2 separate regions of the Homo sapiens genome follow, and region 2 is linked to region 1. Evidence: fine-mapped expression QTL. A gene starts in region 1. The other region holds a variant in brackets. All regions are shown on one strand. Distances are between the middles of the regions.

Region 1 (12,066 bases):
GATTTCTACGCTCTGAAGCCCATTCATGCATGAACCACTTCCAAGGAACGGTAGGTTTGCAAAACTGCTTTTATATTTTTACAGCCTTGGTATGCCTTAATTACATTTTTACATTTTTACAGCCTTTGTGTGCCTTAATTAACCTGGCTGGCACTTTAAAACTTGGCCTCACCCTTACCCTGAAGTCACAGTGTGGCTGCATAACTTATGTAAGAAATCGGAGGATCTGTCACAACAGTGAGTGACAAAAAAGGGCAGACAAATTCATTCCACAAGCCAAAAACAGCGACGAAAAGGGTCTCAGCGCCACCTCTAGTGGGGAAACTGAGCCTCAGGCTCCCAACCCAGCCCCCATGATGCCCAGTCTGTCTAGACTCTGTGCTGAACCTGAAGCCCCTGGCCAGGTGTTGCCCAGGCCCTTCCTCGCCCACCCGGTCTCAGACCCATTCTGTGGAACCACAGCCTCCAGGTCATGGCTCCTACTTGTCTCCAGCGTCTTCAGGAGCCTAAGCTGGCACTTCTGGTTGCTGGTGAAGAAGCTGGAGAAGAACCCTTGCTGGGGATTCCCCTGGGCCAGACGCTCGGGGAAGACCTGGCAAGAGACGTGTTGCTGCTGCAGCTGCTCCCCTGCCGCGGGGCCCCGCCGGCGCTCGTCCGGAGCTCCCGCCATGCCTCCCGCAGACCTCGCCGCTGCTTCCTCCTGGCTCAGGCGGCCAGAGCGAGACTGGGAAAGGTAACCTCCCTCCCGCCAACGCGACCGCCCAGGCCCTCCCTCCGCAGGGAAGAAGGGCAGCCTGGCTGGGCTGAAGACGTTAGGCGGGAGGGGGCTTTGAACCTGACGGGGAGCGCGGGAGGCGGGGCGAGAGGCGAGGGGCGGGGCGAGAGGCGAGGGGCGGGGCGAGGGATGAGGGGCGGGGCGAGGGCATGGGGCGGGGCGCGGGGCCCGATGCTGTTGGGCGGAGCTGGGTCTTGCGACTTCCCTCAAAGGCTGTAACAACCCGGCTGCCGCGGATTTCGCTGCTGCCCTCCCAGTGTGGGTGACATGTCTTTATAAGCGTTGTTCTGCAGCTTCCTGCTGCCTGCTGAGCTCTAAGGGTGTCCCGCCTCCTCGCAGACACTCCTTCCTCACCTCGGGGCGAATATTGGCCACTAACTGCTCTTGTGCCGCCGAAGGTCTCGGCCATCCTCCCACTCCCTGCCTTCTTCCGGGGCAAGCCAGTTGTCATTTCTGGCCCGCCACTTTCCCGACCCCTGCCATCCCTCAGATCCACTCTGCCCAAAGATGCCTCTGGCCATATTGAAAGCAGTGTTTTTCAGAAACGTTTTAAAACTATAAAGAATGACTAGTCACATCAAAATCCTCAAAATGTAGGAACCAACTACATTTTTTCTTCCCACCTGTACCCATTCGTTTACCCTACTCTTCTGCCCCACCCCCCACCAATAACTCCCTGATAACAAAGCGCACCCTGTTTACTTCTACCTCTCAGCCTTAACTCATACTGTCATTTCCATCTTTAAGCTCCTTGCCTCAGCCCCTATGATTGGGGCCCAGGTCAAATCTGCCTACTCCACAGGGCATTCCCAGATACCTTAATCAAAATTAATGTCTCCTGATCTCCCAATGTACAAAGCACTTTGTACCTGTTAATCATTTTCATCGTAGCCTGCCAGGTTTTATCCAATTTGTGTGTTTCTCTTTTCCTACTAAATTATTCCACTCAGCTCACACATTTATTCAGCACCTACTATGATGGGCCAGGCAAGGTGTAAGAGACTGAGGAAACACATGACTAAGAAAATTGCTAAAGATGAAGAGCAGCATGTGGTTTATGTAAGAAACATATCTGAAAAATATAGGCTCAGCAGGCCTTTAGGGTTATGAACAGTGCTTTATGTGTCATAGATGCTCAATATCTAAATTGAGTGGGATGCTAGGATAGTCATTCATCTGGAATATTATAAAAATACAAACAACTCCTATGTACATAGACTATTAAAGCCAGAAGTCAAAAAAAAAGTAACTACTTTTTAATTAAATTCACCTTGGATACATTATTTCCAATCCTCACTACAACCCTGCAAAGTAAGTATTATCTCTAATTTGCAGATAAAGTGGGCTCAGCAAAATTCAATAATTTATCTAGGACCACACAACTAGCTTTCAATCCAGTTATTGAACTAAAACACACATATGGAAAACTAAGCCATTACAATTCAGTGTGATTAGTTTGGAATACTGAAGGCAGGCTAGATATGCCTAGAAATGGACCATAGCCTATATACATTTGAAATACTATTTGGATTTTTTTCATGCTTTCTTTTTTAATACATAGATTCAGGTGGTTTATGTGTAGGTTTATTATACAGATATATTGTGTAGTGGTGAGGTCTGGGCTTCTAGTGTACCCATCACCCAAACAGTGAACATTGTACCCAATAGTTAATTTTTCAACCCTCACCCTTCCCCTCCCACTCTCCCCACTTTTGGAGTCCCCAGTGTCTATTATTCCCCTCTGTATGTCCACGTGCACTCAGTCTTTAGCTTCCACTTATAAGTGAGAACATGGGGTGTTTGATTTTCTGCTTCTGAGTTATTTCACTTAGGATAATGGCCCCCAGCTCCATCCATGTTGCTGCAAAAGACATGATTTCATTATTTTTATGGCTGCATAGTATTCCGTGGTGTATGCATAACCACATTTTCTTTAACCATCTGTTGGTGGACACTTAGGTTAATGGTTGATTCTATGTCTTTGTCTTTTTGTCATAACAATTTCTTCTTTTTTTTTTCTTTTTCAGAGACAGGTTCTTGCTCTGTCACCCAGGCTGGAGTGCAGTGGCGTAATCATAGCTCACCACAGCCTTGAATTCTTGGGCTTAAGCAATCCTACCACCTCAGTCTCTCGAGTAGCTAGAACTACTGGCATGCACCATCATGTCTGGTTAACTTTTTAATTTTTTGTAGAGATGGAGGTTTTTTGCTATATTGCTCAGGCTGGTCTCAAACTCCTGGCATCAAGTGATCCTCCTGCCTCAGCCTCCCAAAGCTCTAGGATTACAAGCATGAGCCACCACACCCAGTCACAATTTGTTTTCCTTTGGGTAGCCAGTAGTGAGATTGCTGGGTCAAATGGTAGTTCTATTTTTAGTTCTTTGAGAAATCTCCATACTAGTTTCCACAGAGGTTGTACTAATTTACATTCCCACCAACAGTGTATAGGCAATCTCTTTTTTCTGAATTCTCATCAATATCGGGTTGTTTTTTGACTTTTTAATAATAGTCATTCTGACTGGTGCAAGATGGTATCTCACCGTGGTTTTAATCTGCATTTCTCTGATGATTAGTGATGTTGAGAAGTTTATCATGTTTATTAGCCACTTGTATGTCTTCTTTTGAGAAATGTCTATTCCTGTCTTTTGCCCACTTTTGAATAGGGTTATTTAGTTTTTTCTGGTTGAGTTCCTTGTAGATTCTGGATATTAGTCCTTTGTTGGATGCACAGTTTGTAAATATGTTCTTCCATTCTGTAGGTTATTTGATTCTTTATCTTACTATGCAGAAGCTTTTTAGCTTAATGAAACTCATTTGTCTGTTTTTGTTTTTGTTGCATTTGCTTTTGAGGACTTGCTCATAAATTATTTGCCTAGGTCAATCTCCACAAGAGTTTTTCCTAGGTTTTCTTCTAGGGTTTTTATTGTTTCAGGTCTTAAATTTAACTCTAATTCATCTTGAGTTAATTTTGGTATATGGTGAAAGAAAGGGGTGCAGTTTCATTCCTCTGCATGTCTATCCACTTTGTGTAGCACCATTTATTAAATAGAGTGTCTTTTCCCATTATATGTTTTTGTTGTCATTGTCTAAGATCAGTTGGTTGTAGGTATGTGGCTTTATTTCTGGATACTATTTGCAATACCCTTCAGCTACAGGAATAAGTAAAAACGTACAAACCAAAAGCTGCAACATTTCCTTACTAAATTAGCTAAAACTGTTTCAATACTCATTGTTGAAGAAACAGATGGAAAAAAATTCATACCACAGTATCAATGGTTGTCTAGGTATTGGAATTTTTTTGTTACATTCTCCTGAAATTTTCTAATGTTCCTCAATAAGCATGTATTACCTTTATAATCAGAAAAATAAACTTTAAAAAATCAAGTGGGCTTTGGATGCCATGTGTAACTTCATCTGTATACAGTATAAAGACATAGGTATGGAATAAAAACACATTAAGGAAGAGATAATGAACAGCAAATACAAATGAGTTTTAAAAAGAAAAAGAATTACCACAAAGAAATTAGAGCAAGGGCAAAGATTTAGCTATAAGGATTTTCATTTCTCCATTGCAGCACTAATTGAGAGCAAAAATGGCCAGGCCAGTGGCATGTAATCATAGCTATTTGGGAGGCTAAGGCAGGAGGACTGCCTGAGCCCAGAAGTTCAAGACCAGCCTGTGTGATACAGCAAGACACCTCCTCCTCAAAAAAAAGGGGCGGCAGGGGAAGACATCAATTGTTTAAATATCCAACAAGAGGTATAATGGAATATATACAACCATGTTAAGTGTCTTTTTTAAACAAAATATGTTCATTAAAAGTTTTTGGGTGTTTTGTTTTGTTTTTTTGTTTTTTTGTTTTTTGAGCCAGAGTCTTGCTCTGTCGCCCAGGCTGGAGTGCAGTGGCGCCATCCCGGCTCACTGCAACCTCTGCCTCCTGGGTTCAAGCAATTCTCCTGCCTCAGTGAGCTGGGATCGCGCCACTGCACTCCAGCCTGGGCGACAGAGCAAGACAACAGCTCAAAAAAAAAAAAAATTCAGGCTGGGCGCGGGTGGCTCATGCCTGTAATCCCAGCACTTTGGGAGACCGAGGAAGGCAGATCACTTGGGATGAGGAGTTCGAGACCAGCCTGACCAACATGGTGAAACCTCATCTCTACTAAAAATACAAAAATTAGCTGGGTGTGGTGGCGCCGCCTATAATCCCAAGCTACTCAGGAGACTGAGGCAGGAGAATTGCTTGAGCCCAGGTGGTGGAGAGGTTGCAGTAAGCCGAGATCGGGCCACTACACTGCAGCCTGGGCAACACAGTAACTTTGTCTCAAAAAAAAAAAAGTTTTTTAAGTTCCAAACTAGCATATACAGTATGATTCCATTTTGAATTTGTACTTACTATAATTCATAGAAAGGGTCTGGAAGACTCCTACAAAGTATTCACATTGGTTGTCCTTAAATGGGTAGGATTTGGAGGTTTTGTGTTTTGGGGGTTTTTTTGGCCTTCATTTTCTAAAGCAAAAATAATTGCTTTTTTAATGGGAACTAAATTATTTAAAATTGTATAAATCTATCACAGTAACAAATAAATTACATATAATTGTAAAGAGTTTACCACCTGTCAGCTGTGAAAGTTGATCATATAAATCGGGTCACTTTTGTCATACCAGTTAAAGAGTGGAGAGGCCAGAGGGAAAAAACATTCAGGTCACAAATATCACTTGAAAAATATAATTCTCTACAGGCCTGGCTGCTGAAACTGCCTGCTAACACTTAAAACCAATTTAATCTAAAGGCTACTAAGACAGTCTGCTACAATTCTAAGACTAATTTTACCCACCACCGTCACTCAGCAATCAGTTTGCCAACCCCACCAAAACATTAATAGTGCCAATAAACTCTCTTGGAGACCAATACGTAACATTTCTCCTTCTTATAAAGTCTCTAACCTCTTCACTCTTCAGACATCCCGAAGACCACCCCAGTCTACATATATGCCCCAAATTACTATTTTCTTCCCAAATAAAGCATTCTAATTTCAAAGATTCATCTCTATATTCTGACTTAACAGCTTTTAACACTTAATGCTGTTTTTTAGTTGACAAATAAAAATTATATTTATAGTATAAAACATGTTTTGAAATATATATACATTGTGGAATGGTTAAATAAAGCTAACATGTACCCTTCGGCTTTTTAAAAACTAACGTCCAATTCATCCAATTCCGTGAGAGTAAAGCCTTTGCTTAGCTTTCCAGTCCTGTTAAACGGGGGGGAAACAACAAAAGGGTCCTCAGGGCCCTGCCCAACAATACGCCACATTCTGTCTAGTAAAGCCACACAGCCAGAAAACGCCAGGTGACTGGCAGGCAGATACTTCCGGAAGAAGTCGGCCCTCCGAACCCGGAAGTGAAGCGATAAGACGCACGGTGTTCTGGGAGGAGTTACGCAGGCAGGGTTGTGGTTGCTGGCTGTTACCAGGACAACCGGAGGCGATTGACCGTTATCTGCGGTTTGGAGCCGTTAGCGGGAGAGGCAGAGATATTCAGAGGTCTTTTAGGATGCGCTAAAGGGTCGTGAGGGCTCTCTTAAAATTTTCTTCACAAGCGGTTATCCAGTCGTGCCCCGCGGCCCTGCTGCTGGCCCCGGGGATCTGAGTCGTACCCTCTTGTTTTTCTCTGAGTCAGTCTTAAGGTGAAATGAAGTGTGGCCCAGTGGCTCCTCACTGTCGCTTCTCTAGTTTTCTGCCTCCTTTTAGAAAATGTAAGTTGAGAATTTCTAATTTACATCGGGATGTGTTCTAATGCGCTTGTTTTTAAAACTGTGGAAAATTTTTAAAAGAAAATAAATCTCACCAGTCATCCAGCTACCCAGAAGTAACATTTTCATGCATTACCTATTAATTTTTTTCTCTGCATATTTTTTCATAGTTGAGATAATTTAGGGAAAACCATTTTGTGTCCTTCATATATGGATGAATACAATATAATTTTGGTATTAATATCATAGCAACAAAGAAGGCATTGAAGGCTTTAAATCTGTTTACAGTGAATTGAAAAGACAGGATGAAGTGGACACAGCATGTGAAGACAATTCTTTCAAGAAGTTTGGCTGTCAAGGAAAACAGAGAATGTGAGTAGCCAAAGCAGAATGACAGTGAAAGAAAGAAATTGGGAGCCAGACAATACAGCCCGACAGTTTACGCCTGTACGGATGTACCTCTTTCACAAAAGATTGAGTATGCTTGGGGAAAAAAAATACACACTATAATAGGAGAAAATGATGAAGAGAAACTGAGGTAAAGGTAATTGGAAAACAAAATAAAGCCAGGGGTATATTAATACCCCAAAACTTCATACCAAAAGGTCCGTGTATTTACTAGAGGGGTGCCACAAATTGGGCTCTGAGGTTCCTAGCAATTAAACCAAAGGGAAAATATAAGTTTAACATGATCCGTATGAGGGAGGAGGCCTAATGGCATATTATAGAATCCTGTTACACATTAGCTGTATGAAATTGATTGGGTAATGTAAGCTCTTTAGACCTCATTTCTCCGTCTCTTAAAGAGTGGGGAGAGGAAGCAGGAGACTGTTAGACGAGTTGATCTTTTAATATCTCTTCCACTACTGACAGTCTATGATCATATAGGCCAGAGACGGCAAACTCAGATGCCTAAATTAGGGACTAAGAAAGTTTCATAAGTGAGGAAATGGACTGAATGTGACAAAAGCAAGGAGTGATAGAGATTGGAATGTTAGAGTTGATTGAGCTGTCCCATCTAAAACTCCAGCCAATTCTTGCAAAAATAAGGACTCAGTGTTGCCTGATTTTTCAGGAGAAACAGGAAAATCATATTTTTGATAATATTATACAAAACAAAACACCTCTACTAGCTAGATACAATTTGTGGGTCACTAATTTTCAACCTCTGCTATAGGTGAAAGGACCTCAACAAGAGGGATAATTGCTTGAATTAAAGAATTAAATATGAAAAAGAGGAAGAAGTCAAAAAGAATACCAAGATTTCCCCTTGGTAATAAGAAGGAGTTAGTAACATTGATACTAAAATCAGCAGAAGGTTTGGGGAGAGAAGGTGCTTTATTGTGAGTTTCTTGAACATGGGGCAAACTTATTTATGTGTATCCATAGCACATGAATCCAATTCAGCTGCTGGATTTGAGAAATCTGTGGGATTTATCAGGGGAAAGGGCGCAGGAATGTAGGTCAGGAGTTTGGGGAAAGAAGATGAAAAAGGAGTTTAAGATGTAAGATTCATTCTTTCAATAAAGTTTTATTGATTATATATCACAATATGTATTTTCACGAGACTCTAAACTGTCTGAGGGCAGAAAGCACGGGGTTTTTTTTAACCACTTACCCAGCTCCTAGCACAATACATAGTCAGTGCTTATGTATGTTGAAAAAACAAATGAAAAAATACAAAACACTGTGCTTTACAGTATAGGAGATGCAGAGTTGAATTAGAAAATCTTAAGGGAACAAGAAACACTGGGGTCTGCTTGAGGGTGGAGGGTGGGAGCATGCAGAGGAGCAGAAAAAATAACTATTGGGTACTAGGCTTAATACGTGGGTGATGAAATAATCTTTACAACAAACCTTCATGTGTACCCCCAAACCTAAAATAAAAGTTTAAAAAGAAGAAAATCTTCTTAAAGAAGTTTATAGAGCAGGGGCCCCATCTCCTTAAAAAAAAAAAAAAAGAAAAAGGAAAAGCGACTTTATAGGCCAGAAAGTAAGACAAGTCTTAACACATAAGGAGCTAATGCAAGTTTTAAAGTAGTGCCATTAAAAAAAAAAAAGTACCATGGGATTCAGAAGGGAAAGATCTTTTTAGAAGAAGTTAAGAAGTTAAGCTCTGTCTTTCTAGATAGTGGACAGTTAGGATTAGATCACACAGGTGTTGGGAGAGGAACTGATCAGAAGCAGTTAAATAGAAGATGTAGGCTGGGTGTGGTGGCTCACACCTGTAATCCCAGCACTTTGGGAGGCTGAGGTACGTGGATCACTTGAGGTCAGGAGTTTGAGACCAGCCTGGCCAACATGACAAAACCCCGTCTCTACCAAAAATACAAAAATTAGCCGGGTGTGGTGGCGCACACCTGTAATCCCAGCTACATGGGAGGCTGAAGCAAGAGAATCACTTGAGCAGGGGAGGCAGCCACTGCCCTCCAGCCCGGGCAGCAGAGTGAGACTCTTGTCTCAAAAAAAAAAAAAAAAAAAAAAGTGTATACCCTTCTTTTGAAAGTATTTGAAACTGCCAAAAAAAAAAAAAAAAGAGTGAATAGTGAAACAGTTTGAAGCCAGAACCTTGAGAATCACCCACATATAAAGAAGGTGAAGAAGAAAAACCAACAAAGTAAACAGAGAAAAAGTCATCAGAAAGCTAAGAGAAACATCAGGAGAGTGGGTTTCATAGGAACTAAGATTCCGGGTTTCAAGAAGGAAAGTTCTGTCAATATTGTCAAATACTACAGAGACAGCAAGCCATCAAGGAGGGTCCAAGTTCATTGGATTTGATGATTAAGGAAATCACTGATGACTTTAAACAATTGGCCAATGAATATAAGAAGAGGAGGTATAAAAAGCAGTAGAATTGAAAGGCTTGTTGATTTGTTTAGGGAGGTGGGGAATGGGGTTCCTTAGGAGCAGGGGAAAAAAATAAAAGACAAGATTAAGCTGCAAAACAGGACAAATTTATGAAGCAAGATTTTGGAGAATCTAAGCAGTGATGAGATCAAGAAATGGAGGAAGAGTAACATCAAGAATAAGCATTATAATTCTAACAAATATTGTTCAATTACAAGTAACTTTTTAATGTCTATCATCATGTTTTCTTGCCCAATGGCCTGGTTTCTTTTCACCTTTAGCCCTAAAATAACTTCATAATCTAAAAAATAGTATTAGAACTTCAACTTAGTAATATTTCCTAATGTTGCTTTTAAATCCTCTTTTTATAAACAGGTATTATCAGCAGGGCGTGGTGGCTCACACCTATAATCCCAGCACTTTGGGAGGCCAAGGCAGCCAGATCACCTAAGGTCAGGAGTTCAAGACCAGCCTAGCCAACATGGTGAAACCCTGTCTCTACTAAAAATATAAAAATTAGCTGAGTGTGGTGATGGGCGCTTGTAATCCCAGCTACTCAGGAGGCTGAGGCAGGAGAATCACTTGAACCCAGGAAGCAGAGGTTGCAGTGAGCCGAGATCGCACCTCTGCACTCCCACCTGGACAACAGAGCGAGACTCCATCTAATAAATAAATACATAAATAGGTATTATGGTGTATAATTCCTGATTTTTCGGTTGCTCCACATCCCTTTCAGGAAACCACCACTCACCAGCCTTAGCTGGTTCAAGTGAGGCTGATTCCCAACTGCCCACACTGCCCCCATTCCTACACTTGATTCAGACCTGACCAATGAGAACCATCATTGGTACTTTTGCTGGTACTATTTATTTATATATATATATTTTTTTTGAGATGGAGTTTCGCTCTTGTTGCCCAGGCTGGAGTGCAATGGCGCAATCTTGGCTCACCACAATCTCGGCTCACCACAACCTCCACCTCCCAGGTTCAAATGATTCTCCTGCCTCAGCCTCCCAAGTAGCTGAGATTACAGGCATGCACCACCACATCCAGCTAATTTTTTTTTTTAGTAAAGACAGGGTTAATCCATGTTGGTCAGGCTGGTCTCGAACTCCCAACCTCAGGTGAACCACCCACCTCAGCCTCCCAAAGTGCTGGGATTACAGGCGTGAGCCACCGCACCTGGCCTGCTGGCACTATTAAAAAAAAAAAAAAAAAAAAAAAAAAAAAAACTCTCCCTCTGATGTTATATTGCAGGTGCTAAAGAACATACAGACACAGAGCAGACAGGCCACCTTTGCAACCACATGGAGGTTTGTCTGATATTGAAGCTAAAGAAGCTAAGCTGGAAGACAGAGAGACCAAGTCCTGATGACATTGTTTGAACCCAGAGATCCAGACATGCCTGAAAACTAGTTTTACCACTGGACTTATCCGTTGAATGAGCCAATAAACTCTCTTTTATACTTAACCTTGGGTTTTACCTGGATTTTTGTCATTGACAGCTCAAAATATTCTAATATAGAAGTATACATCATTAAATCAACATTTCTTTTTTTCTCTGTCTTATTTTAAATGTAACTCTATAAGGTACTCTAAAAGTATTCTACAGTCTCACTAAGTTAATCTGCAAATTTGGTAAAATTCCAATATTAATCCCAAAAGTATTTTAAGAGCTTGTTTTTGTTGTTTGCTTGTTTGGGACTAAACAGAATTACTCCAAAATTCATTGAGAGAAAAAAAAACATGAAAAAAAAAACAAGAAAATAGAATTCATAAAAGGAAATTGTATTATATAACAAAGCATAAAACAAGAATAATAAACATAGAGTGGTAATGGAATAAATAAACAGTCATGGAACAGAATTCAAAGCCTGAATATATCTAAGAGCACTTACCAAATTTAATATGTGGTACATCAAGAAAAGATTAATCCAGTAAAGTATATAAGTACATTGAGCTAGATTTAGAGGAGAAAGATAATTAGATCGTTACCTTATTCCCAGAATAAATTTCAAATGGATTTGTGACTTAAGTGTAAAAATTGAAGCCAGATTCTCAATATACATTGATTGGCATATAATTGGCACAGTCTTTAGCAATATCAATTAAATGTTAAATATTAATAACAACACAGCCTTTCAATTCTAGAAATATATCCTACAGAAACAAAATATATGTATAAATATAGATAATGCAGTATTGGAATATCAAAAGTAGTACACATATGAAATAGGATATGGAATACCTATATCATGAATTCACGGGGTGGCAACATCGCAACAAGGAGGTGAAAATTGATTCTTGAGGGAAATTTTTTTTTCTAAAGCATAGATATGTGTGTAAAGCACATAAACAAATATACAGTATATATGTGGTATTGAAACTTCATGGGAGAGTAATAATTAAGAAAAAAATGTCTACACTGGGTGCAGTGGCTCATGCCTGTTATCCCAACACTTCGAAAGGCCAAGGTGGGTGGATCATGAGGTCAGGAGTTCAAGACCAGCCTGGCCAAGATGGTGAACCCGCAACTGTACTAAAAATACAAAAATTAGCCGGGCATGGTGGCAGGCGCTTGTAATCCCAGCTACTCAGGAGGCTGAGGCAGGAGAATCGCTTGAACCTGGGAGGTAGAGGTTGCAGTGATCCAAAATCACGCAACTGCACTCCAGCCTGGGTGACAAAG
Region 2 (12,066 bases), 41 kb before region 1:
CTTTTTAAACCTTAAAAATATGTAAAACAAATTTAAAGGGTCTGTTAATTCTTATATTTTTCTTTATTAATCATTTTGGATTTTTTTATTTGAATTATTGGGCAGGGAAAATACTTATGTATGGAAGATTATTGCTCTAATTTGAGTGAAATAAAAGTTTATTAGTGCGAGGCAAAAAAAAAAAAATGTTTAAGCCTCTTGTGATGCACAATTCATCAGTGATACATTAGTGCCCTCTGCTGCTGGCTGAGTTTTCCAACAGCTCAGAATTTCGGTATGGCTTTTCTTTTTCTCCTTTTTTTTTCCTCTCTCTCTCCTCTTCTTTTAAGAACATTGCAGTGTATTGTTTTGGTTCAACATTTTACACATAAATTAATAAAATTAGTAGAATGGTAATCAGGATGCATGGGATTATTTTAAATTATTATTGCTTGTGTTTCGACATCAACGCAAAGAAATTTCTTGATCAAAATTACTTAGAGATTTCATATTGAGCTGCAATCACGGAACACAGCATACATTATTGCTCCTTAATTGTAAAATATTCTATAAAAGGTAACTTATGTAGCTGGCCTGATAGCATATCATATAGGTTCCAATTTTTAATGATTATAAATATAATAATTTACCCCTCATTTTGCCTGGCTTATTTCTTAGGGTTGCCAGATTTAGCAAATAAAACTATGTCCCAGGTACTTTCATGGAACCTATTTCTACTAAATACTTATACTAAAAAATGCTAAATTCTTAGGTAAAAAAAAAATATTTACAGTTGATCTGAAATTCAAATTTAACTGGATTTCCTGTATCTTACCTAGTGACCTTATCTATTCTCATGTGTGCTCTGAATTTCATAATTGAAATTCTTTTCTGTTATGATAATCAGAGTTTATCCTACCGTAATAATGACTAAAACCAAACACATTTCTTTATTTTCTATTTCTTTCCTCACATTTTGTGAAACGCTGAGTAGGTTTTCACATAACAATGCTTAATGCACAAATTGACATAACAAGGTTTGTTAGTCATGAGATTAAAAGCATTTGTTCTTAAAAGAAGAGTTATTTAATTAATGGATGGATTAAGTAAGAACAATCCTGAATTCCTCAACTTCCTTTATGGAGCAACAAACATACTATATAAAAAGCATATAAAAATTCCGTTTTACGAATGGTAAGTTTGAAAGTGAGGCCACCCAGATGCAACATTATGCTAAAGCAGTGATTCTCAAGCTTGCACAGCTGAACTTGTGGAAGTTTTTTGGGATTTTGTGTGTTTGTTTTTGAGACAGATTCTCACTCTGTCACCCAGGCTGGAGTACAGTGGCACAATCACAGTTCACTGCAGCCCCGAACTCTTGGCCTCAAGCGATCCTCCCACATCAACTTCCCAAGTAGTTGGGACTAGGTGCACCACCATGCCTGGCTAATTTTATTTATTTATTTATTTATTTATTTATTTTAGAAACACGGTCTCACTATGTTGTCCAGGCTGGTCTCAAACTCCTGGCCTCAAGAGATCCTTCTGCCTCAGGCTCCAGAGTCGCTAGTATTACAGGTGTGAGCTACTGCGCCTGGCCAGAGAGTGCTTCTTGATTTTAATATACACATGAATGAAACAGATTGATCTAGCAGAATCTGGGCATTTCTAATTAGCAACTAGTTGATGCCATTGCTGCTAAGCCAAGGACCATACTTTGAGAAGAAAGATTTTAGAAGAGACCAAAAAAGAAAAAGCAATTTGTTTCAAAATGGAACTGTATAATGTCTGTGAGAATTGAAAATGCAGATTACTTACCACCACATTACTGCCAGAATGTAATGATAACTGCCACAGAAACGAAGGATGGGAGCGGAGATGAAAGAAAACGATTAATCGTCCTGTGGTGGTGTTCAGTGTGCCATCTTCAGTTCCTTTATCGTTTTCTGTCACAGTATCTCTCACTGGCAAAATGGAATTAATATTTGCTCCCTCACTACTTTTTCAGAATTTGAGAATTTGCATTAGATCATTTTATATGCAGCATCCCAAATATGCAGTAATTTAAAGCATACAAGTTTAGACCACATTAGAATTGAGTTCATAGTTTATTTCCATCAGACCTCTTTTAACCATTTTGGTCTGTTGGAGTTTAAGTAGCAAGATGCAGATTGTGCAACCATGTGGAGCTGATCAAATCAACCCCTGAAAGTGTAATTGGTAAATCTCTTCAAGTGCTTTTGAAAAATTAATCAAGACAGGTTTGGTGAACCTTTGCTGAGAGTGTCATTAGGACAAATGACTTGGTTCCCAATATATTATCATAAAGGAAAACTCCAGCTGCAAATCCCAAGGTGACCCATTTATCTCACTTGAATGGAAAATAATGACTTTTTAAGCACTGCAAATAATTCCGCTGGTTTAAAATCAATTTGGTTAATACAATTAAATAGAACTATTTGATCTTTCAGGTTCAAAAACCACCAACTTGACTCAGACATTAACATTTTAATATGGAAACAGCCACCATAATCTTCCAATGCCCTCAAAAATGGTTTATAGGGACACGTTGTAGAAAACAGTGCATATAACATTGTCTTTAAAATCTTTCCAGAATTAATAATATAAACTGGTATTGAGGTATTCTGCCTTAAGCATTCATATTTCACCTCAAAGCCAATGCCTTTTTTTTTTTCACACAGTCTCACTTTGTCACCCAGTCTGAAGTGCAGTGATGTGATCTCTGCTCACTGCAACCTCCATCTCCTGGGTTCAAGCGATTCTCCTGCCTCAGCCTCCTGAGTAGCTGGGACTACAGGCATGTGCCACCACACCCAGCTAATTTTTGTGGATTTTTTTTTTTAATACTTTAAGGACTGAGATACATGTGCAGAACATGCAGGTTTGTTACATAGGTATACACGTGCCATGGTGGTTTGCTGCACCCATCAACCCGTCATATACATTAGGTATTTCTCCTAATGCTATCCCTCCCCTAGCCCCCTACTCCCCAACAGGCCCTGGTGTGTGATGTTCCTCTACCTGTTGTGTTCTCATTGTTCAACTCCCACCTATGAGTGAGAACATTTGGTGTTTGGTTTTCTGTTCCAGTGTTAGTCTGCTGAGAATGATGGTTTCCAGCTTCATCCACGTCCCTGCAAAGGACATGAATTCATCCTTTTTTATGGATGCATAGTATTCCATGGTGCATATGTGCCACATTTTCTTTATCTAGTCTATCATTGATGTGCATTTGGGTTGGTTCCAAGTCTTTGCTATTCTGAATAATACTGCAATAAACATACATGTGCATGTGTCTTTATAGTAGAATGACTTATAATCCATTGGGTGTATACCCAGTAATGGGATTGCTAGGTCAAATGGTATTTCTGGTTCTAGATCCTTGAGGAATAGCCACACTGTCTTCGACAATGGTTGAACTAGTTTACACTCCAACCAACAGCGTAAAAACGTTCCTATTTCTCCACATCCTCTCCAGCATCTGTTGTTTCCTGACTTTTTAATGATCACCATTCTAACTGGCATGAGATAGTATCTGATTGTGGTTTTGATTTGCATTTCTCTAATGACCAGGGATGATGAGCTTTTTTTCATATGTTTATTGGCCACATAAATGTCTTCTTTTGAGAAGTGTCTGTTCATGTCTTTCTCCCACTTTTTGATGGGGTTGATTTTTTCTTGTAAATTTGTTTAAGTTCCTTGTAGATTCTGGATATTAGCCCTTTGTCAGATGGATAGATTGCAAAAATTTTTCTCCCATTCTGTAGGTTGCCTGTTCACTCTGATGATAGTTTCTTTTGCTGTGCAGAAGCTCTTTAGTTTAATTAGATCCCATTTGTCAATTTTGGCTTTTGTTGTAATTGCTTTTGGTGTTTTAGTCATGAAGTCTTTGCCCATGCCTATGTCCTGAATGGTATTGCCTAGGTTTTCTTCTAGGGTTTTTATGGTTTTAGGTCTTTCAATTAAGTCTTTAATCCATCTTGAGTTAATTTTTGTATAAGGTGTAAGGAAGGGGTCCAGTTTAAGTTTTCTGCCTATGGCTAGCCAGTTTTCCCAACACCATTTATTAAACAGGGAATCTTTCCCCATTGCTTGTTTTTGCCAGGTTTGTCAAAGATCAGATGGTTGTAGATGTGTGGTGTTATTTCTGAGGCCTCTCTTCTGTTCCATTGGTCTATATATCTGTTTTGGTACAAGTACCATGCTGTGTTGGTTACTGTAACCTTGTAGGAGCCTCGTAGTATAGTTTGAAGTCAGGTAGCACAATGGCTCCAGCTTTGTTCTTTTTGCTTAGGATTGTCTTGGCTATACAGGCCCTTTTTTGATTCCATAGGAAATTTAAAGTAGTTTTCTCCAATTCTGTGAAGAAAGTCAATGGTAGCTTGATGGAGATGGCATTGAATCTATAAATTACTTTGGACAGTATGGCCATTTTCATGATGTTGATTCTTCCTGTCCATGAGCATGGAATGTTTTTCCATTTGTTTGTGTCCACTCTTATTTCCTTGAGAAGCAGTTTGTAGTTCTCTTTGAAAAGGTCCTTCACATCCCTTGTAAGTTGTATTCCAAGGTATTTTATTCTCTTTGTAGAAATTGTGAGTGGGAGTTCACTCATGATTTGGCTCTCTGTTTGTCTATTACTGGTGTATAGGAATGCTTCTGATTTTTGCACATTGATTTTGTATCCTAAGACTTTGCTGAAGTTGCTTATCAGCTTAAGGAGATTTGGGGCTGAGATGATGGAGTTTTCTAAATATACAATCATGTCATCTGCAAACAAAGACAATTTGATTTCCTCTTTTCCTGTTTGAATGTCTCCATTTATTTAAATCTTCCTTTTGTAAGCAATTTTTAATATTTTTCTTTTTTCTTGTTTATTTATTTAAGACAGAGTCTTGCTCTGTTGCCCAGTTTCTTTCTCTTTATTTCTTTCTCTTGCCTGATTGTTCTGGCCAGAACTTCCAATACTATGTTGAATAGGAGTGGTGAGAGAGAGCATCCTTGTCTTGTGCCAGTTTTCAAAGGGAATGCTTCCAGCTTTTGCCCATTCAATGTGATATTGGCTGTGGGTTTGTCATAAATAGCTGTTATTATTTTGAGATACAGTCCATCAATACCTATTTTATTGAGAGTTTTTAGCATGAAGGGGTGCTGAATTTTTTCAAAGGTAGGCCTTTTCTGCATCTATTGAGATAATCATGTGGTTTTTGTCATTGGTTCTGTTTATGTGATGGATTACATTTATTGATTTGCATATGTTGAATCAGGCTTACATCCAAGGGATGAAGCTGACTTGATCTGGCTGTGACATCTGTCACCCTATTGATGGCCAGGGTTGATTTGGCTGATCTGGCTGGCTAGGCGGGTGTCCCCTTCCTCCCTCACTGCTCCATGTATATTAGCCCTTTGTGCACTCGGTCAAAGAGGATGACCATCCCTGATAGAGGAGGACTGCAGTCTTTGGTCAAGGGTATAGGAGTAGCTGCACTCCCTTGCTAGAACCTCCAAACAAGTTCTCAAAACAAAATTTTTAATTAGCCAGTTGTGGTGGCATACACCTCTCTCCCACCCACTCAAGAGGCTGAGGCAAGAGGATCACTTGAGCCCAAGAGTTCATGGTTACAGTGAGCTGTGATTGTACTGCCACATTCCAAACTGGGCAACAGAGCAAGACTCCGTCTTAAATAAATAAACAAGAAAAAAGAAAAATATTTAAAATTGCTAAAAAAAAAAAAGGAAGATTTAAATAAATTGAGACATATT[C/T]TATGTCCATTAATTTGAGTGTTCATAATTTGGAAGACTTGATACTGTTGAGAATTTTCCCCTAATTGATCTATAGCTTCAGTGCAATCCCATTCATAAATCTCAGCAGGCTTTTTCATAGAAATTGACAAGCTGATTCTAAAATGTGTATAGAAATGCAGAAGACCTAGAATGGTCAAAACAACCTTGTAAAAGAAAAACAAAGCTGAAGGACTTACACTTCTGACCTTAAGACTTACTATAAAGTAACCAAGACAGTGTATTACTGGCTTAAACATAAATAAATAGATCAGTAGAACCAAATATAAAATCTGGAAATAGACCCACACATACATAGTCCATTGATTTGCAACAGACACCAAAGCAATTCAATGAGGAAAGTATTTTCAGCAAATGGTTCTAGAACATCTGGACAGCTATAAGAAAAAGAGTAAACCTGAACTCTTACTTCACACCATAAACAAAAATGAATTTCATATAAATATTATAGACTCAAATATAAAAGCTAAAACTATAAAGCTCTTAGAATAAAATGTAAAAGACTATTTTCACAACTAGGAGTAGACAAAAATTTGTTAGGACACGGAAAGCAATAACCACAAAATGTTTTTAATTGGTAAATTAAACTTCAAAATTAAAGAACTCTGCTCATTGAAAATGTTAAGAACATGAATAGGCAAGCCACAGACTGGAAGAAAATATTCATGAAACATTTATCTGATTAAAAAAACTTTTAAGTGAAAATACAAAGGCTTTTTATAACTCAATAGTAAAAAGAAAAACAATCGAAGAAAAAATGGGCAAAATATTTGAACAGACACTTTTACAAAGGAAATTTATTTTAAAATTTAAAATTGTCTGATAAACACAACAAAATTGTTTAATATCATTAGTTATCAAAGAAGTGGAAATTGAAACTACAATAAGAAACCACTACACACCTACTAGAATGACTAAAATTAAAAAGACAACTGACAATATTTGTTAGAATATAAGAGAAAATAGAACTCACATACACTACTGGTAGGAATCTGAAATAACACAACCACTTTGGGAAAAGGTTTCTGTTTCATTTAAAGTTAAATATACATATATCTTTTGACTCTGCTATTCTATCATAGGTATTTTACTTATTTGTGGAAAGGAAAACATATCCACAAAAAGACTTGTACAAGAATGTTCTTAACAGCCTTATTTACAACACCTAAAACTAAAAACAACCCATTATATATAAACAGGAGGATGAATAAGCAAACTGTTTTATATTCATACCATGGGACATGTCTTAGCAATAAAAAGAGAATGAATTAATAATAAATGCAATAATAGCAATGAAACTCACAGACATGCTGGGCAAAAGAAACCTGATACAAAAGAAAATATATTTAATGATTCCATGTGTATGAAATTCTAGAACAGGAAAAACCAATCTATGGTGAAAAAAACTTAGAAGAGTGGTTAGCTGGATGGTGGGAAAGAGGGAAACTGAGAAAAAAGAGGAAGGAACTTTCTGGGGTGATGGGGTGTTCTAAATTTTATGATGTGGGTTACACAAATGTACATATTGTCCAAATTGTATAGTTATTATTTGGGTATCTCACTAGAGGTGAAATTTACCTTTAAAAAATGAATGTGATGTGGATAGTGGCTGAAAGTATAGATTAAACAAAAGGGCAGAATGTTGATAATTGTCAAACCTGAGTCATGGGTGCAAGGATATTTATTATTCTTGGTTTGCTTCGTAAATGTTTGAAATTTTCTACAATAGAGTTTGTTTAAACTGGTAGAAATGAATTAAAGGTTAATATGCACTGAATTCTAATTGCAATAATCTTCTATTTTAACTAAAACTGTATGAGAACTGGCATAACCGCACAGTTTTTGCTAGGCAGAAAATTGAGTGCTAAACAATTAAGAAACCATTGTTTTGTTCATTTGTGCCCTTGGGAGAAGGAAGAGCAGAGTGGAGAATGAAACAGAATAATGTTAGTCTGTAGCAATCAGACCATGCTATTTCAACTATTCACCTTCTCAAGAGGATAGTGATATTCAGCCAAGATATTACCAAACCTAGTTATTTGTTCATTAAACTCACTTCAGAGAAATGCCCTAAGTGTATAATTAATAAATGTTAATTTATATTAATGATAAGATTGCACTTGAATTTTTTAACTTTTTTCTGAATTTAAAATATTCGAGAAGCAAGAGCCAAGCATTCTGCTAATAAGCCTGCATTTTTCTTTCATTATTCTCTTTCTTCTTTCTCTTCCCTGCTGATTTCTACTTCTAACTTTTGCAATGCGAGTGTTACAGTCCCCAAGAGCTGAATTTGGTTCTATAGAAATTACCAAGTAGAATATCTGCAGTTTTATTGAACAACACTGTTTATTCAACAGGTACAGATGTTAAGTTAGAAGGAAAACAAAAATTGTGTGATGCCCTAAGTGGCAAGTGGCAGCTTCTCTGAGTGCTAACTGCATTCATGCTACCTCATAACCAAAGTGATCAAATACGAGGGGGGGGAAATTACAATGAGCCAAAAACACTCTCCTAACATAATGCTTCAGAGTCCCAGAGCAAAGGTCAAAGTGACACGCACACTCCAAATCTGGATCTGTAGGGTCAAAGCCATACCAGGCAGCCCACTAATGGGGCCACCTATTAGTAGGAAGCCCTGAGGAGCCTCAGAAGAGTCAAGGTGGCTGGACTCAGATCAGGGCTCACTAGGAAACTACAGCTCCCATTCATTCTCCCAACCACTGCATGAAAAGGGACTCAATCTGAAGAAAAAATAGACATTGTACCCATTCAATAAGTATTTATTAAACACTCACTGTCTACTATGTGCTGATGTAGGCACCAGGGATACAGGAAGGACCAACATGAGCTGAGTCTTTGTCACCATGGGGAACAGCTTCATCAAGGAGGAAGTGCAGGGTGATCTGGGGTATGTAATACAGCATATATTTGAGGATATATAACCTGTGTTGAGACCCAGGTTGGAGGCTCAAGAAAAAATGTCCAGAAAAAGTAACATTTAAACTGAAACCTGGAGTATGAGGAGGAGATAGCAAGTCAACTTACTATCTTAACTATTTTTAAGTGTACAGTTCAGTGGTATTAAGTACATTCATACTCTTGTGTAACCACCAGCACCCTCCATCTCCAGAACTCTTTTCATCTTTTAAAATTAAAACCTCATACCCATTAAACAATAACTCCCCATTCTCTTCTCTCCCAAGCTCTGAACCACCTTCTGTATCTAATATTTTGACTACTGTAAGTACCTCATATAAATGGAATCATAAAATATTTGTCCTTTTTTGTCTGGATTATTTTACTCAGTATAAAGACTTCAAGGTTCATCTATGTCATAGCATGTGTCAGAATTTCCTTCCTTTTTATACATAAATAATATTCCATTGTGTGGATATACCACATTTTGCTTATCCATGCATGCATCAATGGACACTTGAGTTGCCTCCATGTTTTAGCTATTGTGAATGCTGCTGCTGTGAACATGGTGCACAAATATGTCTTTGAGATCCCACTTTCAATTCTTGTGAGTAACACCCAGAAGTGGAATTTCAGGATCATATGGTAATTCTACTTTTAACTTTTTTCTTTCTCTTTTTTTCTTTATTAAGACTTTCAGATAAAACTATTTTTAACTCTTTGGGAAACCACTATGCTGTTTTCTATAGCAGTTGTATCATTTTACATTCCCACCAACCATCCACAAGGGCTCCAATTTCTCCACGTCCTTTTCAACACTTATTTTCTGTTTGTACTACTATTTTGGTAGTAGCCATCCTAGTAAGTATGAGGTGGTATCTCATAGTTTTAATTTGCTTGCATTTCCCTAATGATTAGTGATGTTGAGCATCTTTTCATGTGCTTATTGGTCATTTGTATATCTTCTTTGGAGAAATGTCTATTCAAGTCCTTTGCCCATTTTTGAATCAGGTTGTTTGGCATTTTCTTCTTGAGTCTTAAGGGTTATCTATATATTCTGGCCATTAATCTCATATTGGATACATGATTAGCAAATATTTTCTCCCATTCTGTGGGTTGTCTTTTTCATGAAGTCCAATTTGCCTGTTTTTTCTCTTGTTTCCTTATGCTTTTGGTTTCATATCCAAGCAATCATTGCCAAATCCAATTTCATGAAGCACTTCCCCTATGTTTTCCTCTAAGAATTTCATAATTTTAGCTCTTGTATTTAGGTAGCAGATCAATTTGGAGTTAATTTTGTATATGGTGTTAGCTAAGGATCCAACACTATTCTTTTGGATGTGGACATCCAGTATTTCCAATACCACTGGTTGAAAAGACTGTTTTTTCCTCAATTGAAGAGTCTTGGCACACTGTTGAAAATCATTTGACCATGTAAGTGAAGATATATTCCTGAACTCCCTAGTCTGTTTCATTGATCTGTATATGTGTCTTTATGCCACCACCACACTGTTTTGATTACTGTAGCTTTGTGGTAAGTTTTGAAATCAGGAAGTGGGAGTCCTCCAGCTTTGTTCTTTTACAGGGTTGTTTTGGCTATTTTGGTCCCTTGAGATTCCACGTTCATTTTATTTTAATTTTTTTTTTTTGAGACAAACTCTCACTCTGTTGCTGAGGCTGGAGTGCAATGGTGCGATCTTGGCTCACTGCAGCCTCGACCTCCAGAGCTGAAGCAATCCTTCTGCCTCAGCCTCCCAAAGTGTAGAGATTACAGGTATGAGCCACCATGCCATATTAATTTTAGAATGAGTTTTTCTATTTCTGCAAAAAAAATTGGAATTATGTAAGGGATTGCATTAAATACGTACAACACTTTGGGCAGTATTGACATCTTAATGTTATTAAGTTTGCCAACCCATGAGCATGGTGTCTTTCCATTTATTTACATCTTCTCTAATTTCTCTCAGAAATATTTTGTAGTTTTCATTGTTTTTTCACAAGTCTTTTACCTTCTTGTTTAATTCCTAAATAATTTATTCTTGTTGATACTATTTTAAATTGAATTATTTACTTAATCTCCTTTTCAGACTGGTTTTTGGGGTTTTTTGAGACAGAGTCTCACTCTGTTTTCCAGGCTGGAGTGCAATGACGTGATCATGGCTTACTGCAGCCCAACCAATGTTCCCACCTCATCCTCTCGGGTAGTTGGGATTACTGGCACACACCACCATACCCTGCTAATTTTAGTAATTTTTTGTACAGACAGGGTTTCACCATGTTGCCGAGGCTGGTCTTGAACTCCTGAGATTAAGTGATCCACCCATCTCAGCCTCCCAAAGTGCTTGGATTATAGGTGTGAGCCACAGTGTGCCCAGCCCAGACTGTTTATTATTAATTTATAAAAGTGCAGCTTTTTGTATGTTAACTTTGTATCCTACTACTTTGCTGAATTTATTTATTTGTTCTAATAGTTTCTTTGTAGAATCTTTAAGGTTTTCATATTATCTGTGAGCAGAAATACAAGACAATAGAAGATAAATATCATTTGTGAGCATAAACAATTTTAATTATTCCTTTCTGATTAGGATGCCTTTCATTAGATGCTTTTGTCTTACCTAATTGCTCTGGCTAAAACTTCTAGCACTATATTGAATAGAAGTAGTAAAAGTGGGCATCCTTACCTTGTTTTTGATCTTAGAGGAAACACTTTCAGTCTTTTACCATTGATTATGATGTTCTGTATGAGTTTTCATTAAGGCTTCTATTATGTTAAAGTAGTTTCTCTCTATTCCTAGCATGTTGAGTGTTTTTATCATGAAAGTGTGTTGAATTTTGTCATATGCCTTTTCTGCAATAATTGAAATGATGATGTGTTTCTTTTCCTTTATTCTGTTAATGTTATGTATTATAATGGTGAATTTTCATATGTTAAGGCATTCTTGTATTCCAAGAATGCATCCCACTTGGTCATGTTTCTAATCCATTTATTATGCTGCTGGGATTAGTTTGCTAGTATTTTGTTGAGGTTTTTTGCATCGATGTTCATAAGGAACATTGGTCTACAGTTTCTTTTTTTATTTTATTTTATTATTATTATACTTTAAGTTTTAGGGTACATGTGCACAATATGCAGGTTAGTTACATATGTATACGTGTGCCATGCTGGTGTGCTGCACCCATTAACTCGTCATTTAGCATTAGGTATATCTCCTAAATCTATCCCTCCCCCCTCCCCCCACCCCACAACAGTCCCCAGAGTGTGATGTTCCCCTTCCTGTGTCCATGTGTTCTCATTGTTCAATTCCCACCTATGAGTGAGAATATGCGGTGTTTGGTTTTTTGTTCTTG

What was found. PIP is the estimated chance that this variant, and not a neighbour inherited with it, causes the effect.
Region 2: its variant is the best candidate, but not a certain one, in a credible set for the expression of GIHCG in nasal epithelium (TOPMed, PIP 0.71).

What each region holds. Positions count from the first base shown.
Region 1 is chr12:57,930,306-57,942,371 of GRCh38, reverse strand. GIHCG (GIHCG inhibitor of miR-200b/200a/429 expression) reads left to right here and starts at 6,208. Exons shown (of 3, transcript NR_038269.1): 1 at 6,208-6,533; 2 at 6,819-6,902; 3 at 10,635-10,923. It overlaps ATP23 (ATP23 metallopeptidase and ATP synthase assembly factor homolog), which reads right to left and starts at 805. Exons shown (of 6, transcript NM_033276.4): 1 at 484-805. The coding sequence starts at 670. RefSeq lists enhancers at 127-936, 5,782-6,282, 6,283-6,783.
Region 2 is chr12:57,971,492-57,983,557 of GRCh38, reverse strand. It overlaps the pseudogene RN7SKP65 and the pseudogene ST13P8. Among named protein-coding and RNA genes, the nearest start is that of ATP23, 36 kb to the right of the region's middle. The variant C/T (reference allele first, on the strand shown) is at 5,764.